2 linked regions of the Homo sapiens genome follow. The protein of the gene in region 1 interacts with the protein of each later gene in a biochemical or structural test. Each region holds a gene or a part of one and is shown in the gene's direction. Other genes may lie near its edges.

What was found. Proteins that work in one complex are often made in the same cells at the same time.
Region 2: the proteins of RHOA (region 1) and DAAM1 form a complex in vitro, tested with the Homo sapiens proteins (one study listed by IntAct).

Annotation. Positions count from the first base shown.
Region 1 is NC_000003.12:49,401,825-49,405,476, reverse strand, and holds part of RHOA (transforming protein RhoA isoform 1 precursor), read left to right. Parts: intron 1-3,652. UniProt on the Homo sapiens protein: Small GTPase which cycles between an active GTP-bound and an inactive GDP-bound state.
Region 2 is NC_000014.9:59,191,564-59,195,215, forward strand, and holds part of DAAM1 (disheveled-associated activator of morphogenesis 1), read left to right. Parts: intron 1-3,652. UniProt on the Homo sapiens protein: Binds to disheveled (Dvl) and Rho, and mediates Wnt-induced Dvl-Rho complex formation. May play a role as a scaffolding protein to recruit Rho-GDP and Rho-GEF, thereby enhancing Rho-GTP formation. Can direct nucleation and elongation of new actin filaments.

The DNA of each region.
Region 1 (3,652 bases):
AGACATGTAGCCCTTCAACTAACTTATTTTATTTATTTATTTTTTGAGATGGAGTTTTGCTCTTGTTGCCCAGGCTGGAGTGCAATGGCGTGATCCCAGCTCACTGCAACCTCCACCTCCTGGATTCAAGTGATTCTCCTGCCTCAGCCTCCCCATTAGTTGGGGTTTACAGGCATGTCACCATGCCCAGCTAATTTTTTTTTTTTTTTTTTTTTTTTTGAGACACAGTCTCGCTCTGTCACCCAGGCTGGAGTGCAGTGGCGCGATCTCGGCTCACTGCAACCTCCGCCCTCCGAGTTCAAGCAGTTCTCCTTCCTCAGCCTCCTGAGTAGCTGAGACTACAGGTGCCCGCCACCACGCCCGGCTAGGTGTTTTTTTTTTTTGTATTTTTAGTAGAGACAGGGTTTTACCGTGTTAGCCAGGATGGTCCCGATCTCCTGACCTCAGGTGATCTGCCTGCCTCCGCCTCCCAAAGTGTTGGGATTATAGGTGTGAGCCACCGCGCCTGGCCTACTTTTTTTATTATTTTTTTTTTTGGAGACAAGAGTCTCGCTCTGTCGCCCAGGCTGGAGTGCAGTGGCGTGATCTCGGCTCACTGCAAACTCTGCCTCCCGGGTTCATGCGGTTCTCCTGCCTTAGCCTCCCAGGTAAACTGGGACTACAGGTGCATGCTGCCACGCCTGGCTAATTTTTTTTTTTTTTTGTATTTTAGTAGAGACGGGGTTTAACCATGTTGCCCAGGCTGGTCTCCATCTCCTGAGCTCAGGCAATCTGCCTGCCTTGGCCTCCCAAAGTGCTAGGATTACAGCCGTGAGCCACCGTGCCTGGCCTTCTGGCCTTTTTTTTTTTTTTTTTTTTTTTTTTTGAGACGGAGTCTTGCTCTGTTGTCTAAGCTGGAGTGTAGTGGCACAATCTCGGCTCACTGCAATCTCTGCCTACCAGGGTGCAAGCGATTCTCCTGCCTCAGCCTCCCAAGTAGCTGGGACTACAGGTGCGTGCCACCATGCCCGGCTAATTTTGTGTGTGTGTGTGTGTGTGTGTGTTTTACTAGAGACGGGGTTTTACTTTGTTGGCCAGGCTGGTCTTGAACTCCTGACCTTGTGATCCACCTGCCTTGGCTTCCCAAAGTACTGGGATTACGGGTGTGAGCCACTGCGCCTGGCTTTTTTTTGGAGAGATAAGGTCTTGTTTTGTCATCTAGGCTGGAGTGCAGTGGCACAGTCATAGCTCATGGTGGCCTCCAACTTTTGGTGTCAAGGTATCCTTACGCCTCGTCCTCCCTAGTAGCTGGGACTACAGGTGTATGTGCCACTGCGCCCAGCTAATATTTTTACATTTTGTAGAGATGGAGTCTTGCTGTCTTGCCCAGGTTGGGTCTCAGACTCCTGGGCTCAAACAGTCCTCCCACCTCAGACTCCCAAAGTGCTGCAAGTACGGGCATGAGCCACTGAGTCCAGCTATCTTCAACTTTCACTATTCAGGTTACAGTTTGTAGTACCTTTTTTCGGGGGTGGTGGGAGGGTAGTGGGAGTAGCACCCTAAGATTTCTTGGAATAAAACAGGGCTTACTACTTGGTTCCTGGTACTTAAGAACAGTGGTTCCTAGACTCCACTGTTCCCAAACTTGGAATCCAGTTCCCCAAATTGGAATCACCTGAGGTTTAATTACCTTCATGGAGGTTTAATTTGCATACAATAAAATGCACATACTTTAAATGATAGTTTGATAATTTTTTTGTTCTTATTTTTTTTAGACATAGGGCCTTGTTCTGTCACCCAGCTGAAGTGCAGTGTCGGAATCATGGCTTACTACATCCTCGACCTCCTAGGCCCAAGAATTCTCTGCTTTAGCCTCCCGAGTAGCTGGGACTGCAGGTGTGCACCACCACGCCTGGCTACATTTTTATTTTGTAATTTTTTTTTTTGTAGAGAGAGGGGTCTCACTATGTGCTCAGACTGGTCTTGAACTCCTGGCCTTAAGTGATTCTCTCGTCTCAACCTCACAAAGCCCTGGGATTATAGGCATGAGCCACCACAAACCGCCAGTTTGATAAATTTTGATGAATGTGTATACCCAAGTAATTGCCACTCAGTCGAGTTAAAGAGCATTTCCTCAAGGCTTTAAATTTTTATTTTTATTTTTGAGACGGAGTCTTATTCTGTCATCTAGGAGTGCAGTGCCGCAATCTTGGCTCACTGCAGCCTCTGCCTCCCGGGTTCAAGTGATTCCCCTGCCTCAGCCTCCTGAGTAGCTGGGACTACAGGTGCGTGCCACCACACCCAGCTAACTTTTTGTATTTTTAGTAGAGATGGGGTTTCACTCTGTTAGCCAGGATGGTCTCGATCTGATCTTGTGATCCGCCTGCCTCTGCTTCCCAAAGTGTTGGGATTACAGGCGTGAGCCACCGCGCTCGGCGGGTTTCTTTTTTTTTTTTTTTATGAGATGGAATCTCGCTCTGTTGCCCAGGCTGCAGTGCAGTGGCACGATCTCAACTCACTGCAACCTCCGCCTCTCGGGTTCAAGCGATTCTTCTGCTTCAGCCTCCCGAGTAGCTGGAACTACAGGCACCCGCCACCACGCCCGGCTAATTTTTTGTGTTTTTAGTGGATACGGGGTTTCGCCATGTTGGCCAGGCTGGTCTCAAAGGCCTGACCTTGTGATCCTCCTGCCTCGGTCTCCCAAAGTGCTGGAATTACAGGTGTGAGCCACTGCTCCTGGCCTAAAGTTTTTTAGACTAGTTTTTTTGTTCATTCGTTTTATTTGCTTGGCTTCCTAGAATATGACAAGTTTTGGTTTGTTTTTGAGACAGAGTCTTGATCTGTTTCCCAGGCTGGAGTGCAGTGGTGCTATCGTGGCTCACTGCAGCCTCTAACTCTTGTGCCCAAGTAATACTCCTGCCTCAGCCTCATGAGCATCTGGGACTACAGGCAAGCACCACCATACCTAGTTAATTAATTTAATTTTTATAGAGATGACGTTTTGCCATGTTGTCCAGGCTGGTCTCTAACTCCTGAGCTCTGGCCTCGCAAAGTGGTGGGATTATAGGTGTGAACCACTGCACCCGGCCTAGTTTTTTATTTTAAGAAATATATATACTTGGTAAAAGTAAACTCCTGCAATAAGGTTTACAATAAGCATATATAAATTCTTAGCCAGCTCACTGGGAGGTACCTAATGGTTCATTTTTCTTTGTCAGTTTTACTAGATACGCATTGTCTTAGAGGCAATGTAAGTTTGGAATTAGGCCAAACAAAGTCAAATCCTGATTCTGTGCATCCATTGAAGGTTAACCTTATAATATTTACATTTTGAGATAAATGATTTCATGCTCTTATTTAGGAAACTTGACGGTATGTTACCTCAGGGATTGTTCCTTGCCTGTCTTTCCCCAAAGAACTTGAGTTTGAAGTGATTTTCACTTGGCAGTAAATTGAAGGTTTTCTTCATTGCTTACCACCATGTGCCTTATTCCTGCTGCTCTTGATCTCCAAGTGCCCTTACTGCTACAGAAAGGAAAGCTCTTGAACTAAGAGCTTGGCAGCCACTTGATCAGGATGGCCAAATAATGGCAGTACAGGTTGAGCATCTGAAATGCTTCAAGATGGGCGCTGGCATGACATTCAAAGGAAATGCCTAGTGGTGCCTTTCAGA
Region 2 (3,652 bases), on another chromosome or scaffold:
TAAACCAAAACTTGTCTGGCATAAAAGGCCTTCTATGTATTTGAAATAGACATATTTCCTAATTATTTGCTTTTAGAATACATTCACTCACATCGACTGTTTCTTTGTAGTTACAATTTCTTATTACCCCTGAACCAGGCATTTCTAGATTTCTCTCAGTTGCACTATCCTTGGCCCAGATAATCTTCCCAGGAGGTGTGTGACACGTGAATAGGGAGAGACACCAAGAGAAAGATACCCAGAAGCCTTTGCCAGGCCACCAGTGTCTCCCAGAAGAGCTGGGAGACAATAGTCCTCTCACCTGAGGCAGAGCCGTTCCGTAAACAGGATCAGTTGTTTCAGGCTGGTTGATGTGAAAGAAATGTGAAAGAACATTTGCCCAATATTTGTAACATGTTACCATCCAGTAGTCTGATTCTGTGGGTTTTCAGGAGCATAAATTAGTAAATTAGTGAGGAGGTGTGATAATGAAGAGGGTGTGGTGGGTCACATCCTTGGGTGGTGCTTACAGGAGCTCCATGAATAGGTGCTAAGGAATTTGAATCCTGGCTTTCTTGTTTTGTGGACATGTTCTGCTTGTTAAGGGGTGTGTGTGTGTGTGTGTGTGTGTGTGTGTGTGTGTGTGTGTGTGGTTTTGAGCTACTTTGTTTAAAAGGCTGCTTTTAGTGTTGGCACTATGGTCCTTAAAACAAATAAGGTGTTTACAAGCAAAAGTTCTGATTGAAAGTGTTTCATTTTGTAAATATTTGGGAGATGGCATAAAGAGAAACTTGAGGTCTTGTGTGAAAACACTTTAAAGTTGCAGCTGTTGGACCAGAGGAAACATGCTTTTCCAACAAAGCTTGGTATCCTTGAGTGCCCTAGGTGTTTGGTTCAGGAAATAATCACAGAGCTTGTAACTGCTGTGGGGCCCTCCCTGGCTTCAAGCCGTGCTCTGGTATTTCCAGTGTTAAGTCTATCCTTATATTGCCGGAAACAAAGCAAGGTGTCCAACTTGGGTTAGCAAACTTGTTTTCTCTCTAGAGGGGACACCAGTCAAAATAGAAGTTCTATATTCTGTTGTGATTTTTTCCTCTTTGGATGAGGAATATGGTGACTTATTTTGGTATTACAATTTCTAACTTGGTAATAGAGGTAATATTCTAAGTGAATACCAATCTTAAGTACGCACAGCATCTGTTGTAGTGGTTTCAAGACCTCAAAGTTTAGGCCGGGCGCGGTGGCTCAAGCCTGTAATCCCAGCACTTTGGGAGGCCAAGTCGGGAGGATCATGAGGTCAGGACATCGAGACCATCCTGGCTAACACGGGGAAACCCCGTCTCTACTAAAAATACAAAAAATTAGCCGGGTGTGGTGGCGGGTGCCTGTAGTCCCAGTTACTCAGGAGGCTGAGGCAGGAGAATGTCCTGAACCAGGGAGGCGGAGCTTGCAGTGAACGGAGATTGCGCCACTGAACTCCAGCCTGGACTACAGAGCGAGACTCCGTCTCAAAACAACAACAACAACAACAACAACAAAACCCTCAAAGTTTAGAGGAAATTGATTGCACAGGTACTATTTAAGAAACTGGTACTGAGAGCATTTTCTCTATTTCTGTATGTGGCTTGGAGGTAATGTCTGGTTGACAGATCAGGCTAGGGTGGATGATACCCCTCTTGAAGATGCATTCACTTAGCAAGTGTACTGTCTTTTATGTAGATTATATTATTTAGAGTGGCTGAGGCTGCTGATAGAGACCAGCGTTGAAGTGTGGATCTGAAGTTCACCCCCTTTCTCTGAGCTGTCACCTTGTTTGTAGCCCCACTGAAACAGGGACAGACGAACATGAGATTCAAGTTGATTTTAGTGACCTATATTTCATCCAGCAGATTTTTTTTTTCAGAAATAAAAGGTTACCTTTTAATTTTTTAGTATCCTTTCCACTGTTCTAGGAGCAGGGGGAGAACAGAGCATTTCAGGGAGAGTTTGCATTCATAGTCCACAAGTTTGCATACATAGAACATGTGTCTAAAAATGAACTGAATGTTAAGTCCTAGAAGCACAGCAACAAGTGTGCAGAGCCTTCCCCATCACTCCCAATTAATCTGGGGTTACCAAATACACCCTCAGCTTTGGTGAGCTTGTTTTCCTCATTGATGTTTAAGCGTTCCTGGTTTTTACTCTGTCTGTGACTTTCTGCAGTAATGGCTGTCCACGTCTGGAATGTGCTTCCCTCTGAGTGTCTGGATTATCTTGTGCTTTCATATCTAGCTCAGGTGCCACAGCTTCCACGAAGCCTTCCCTGCCCTTCCTCCTTAAAGCACTTAGCTTGACCACACAACACTTACAGCTAATTTGATACCGATATTGTATGTGAGGTGCCTACCTCATGCCAAGCCCTTTCTAATACTTTCCATGGGCTACGTCATTGACTGCACATAATTATACAAGATAGATACTTTTATTGCCATGTTCTAGATGAGGAAACTGAGGCACAGAGAAGTTAAAGAACTTGCCTAGCTTAGGCCACACAGCCTGTAAGTGGCAGACCAGGTTAGGGACTCAAGCAGTCTAGTTCTTTATACATCCTGATGTTGCCTGGTTTCTGACTTTCCGGCACGTTATTCTTTTCTCTGCAACTCGAGTTGGGGTAATCACAGCTTCCTTTGAGTCTCTTAATTCTCAGACAGTGCTGGGTCAGTAAGTCCTGGATTAATTGAGAGTAAAATGACTTCTTCATGTCACAGGTTCTTACAGCCTGATTTTCTGGAACAGAAAATGTTGTGTGAGATTAAAAATGTTGTTTTTGAGTATTTAAATGATAAAACTTTGGAGCTCTCCTTTGCTGTATGAACGATAGACAAATTATTTGAAAAAGGAAATGCTCTTATATTACAACTCTAAATCTGTTTGGAGCCTGTCCAGCATTAGACCTTATTTGTTAAGTGAGGTAACTTTTCACTGGGTTGAATCCCTCATCTGATAAAAGATCTTCTCACCCTGAACAGGGCCACAGAAGCCTGTGTTGAGAGTTAAGAGGGCCCATAATTTCTCAGCCTCCCTCTTCCCTGTAGTCTTTTAACATACATTGTGAAAGCTCTTTTGAAAAGAAAATAATGAACACTTGAGCAGTAGTCAAACATGTAATCTAATATTGGATAGCCTTAGATATTAAAATAAACTTTTTCCCCCCACCTCAGAAGAGATACTTTTATTTATTTTTACAGTGGAGCAAATTTGGTGCCAAATAAACAATTTCTATTCTTTTAAACCATAGCCACAGTTGTGAATTAAATGGGGAAAACCAGGGAAGCAAGTTCAATTTCCAATGCAGTTGGTGCGATTTCGTGACTTACAATAGATCTTTTCCTTTTGGCTTAAAACTAGATATTGTGCCACTTAGACAATATTTAATGAAGACAATTGACTAAAACACAAGGAAATAATAGGAAAGCTATGCCTTAACGGCATATTGCCAGGAAGGGAAACATGAAAACAAAAGGCTTGTTAGCCATTAGGCTACACAATCATAAAATTTTTTGAACAGACATTGATTTCAGAAGGTTTTTCTTTTTTCTTAATCATTCATCTTGTTATACTTTTTTTTTTTTTTTTTTTTTTGAGACAATCTTGCTCTGTCGCCCAGGCTGGAGTGCAGTGGTGCGATCTCAGC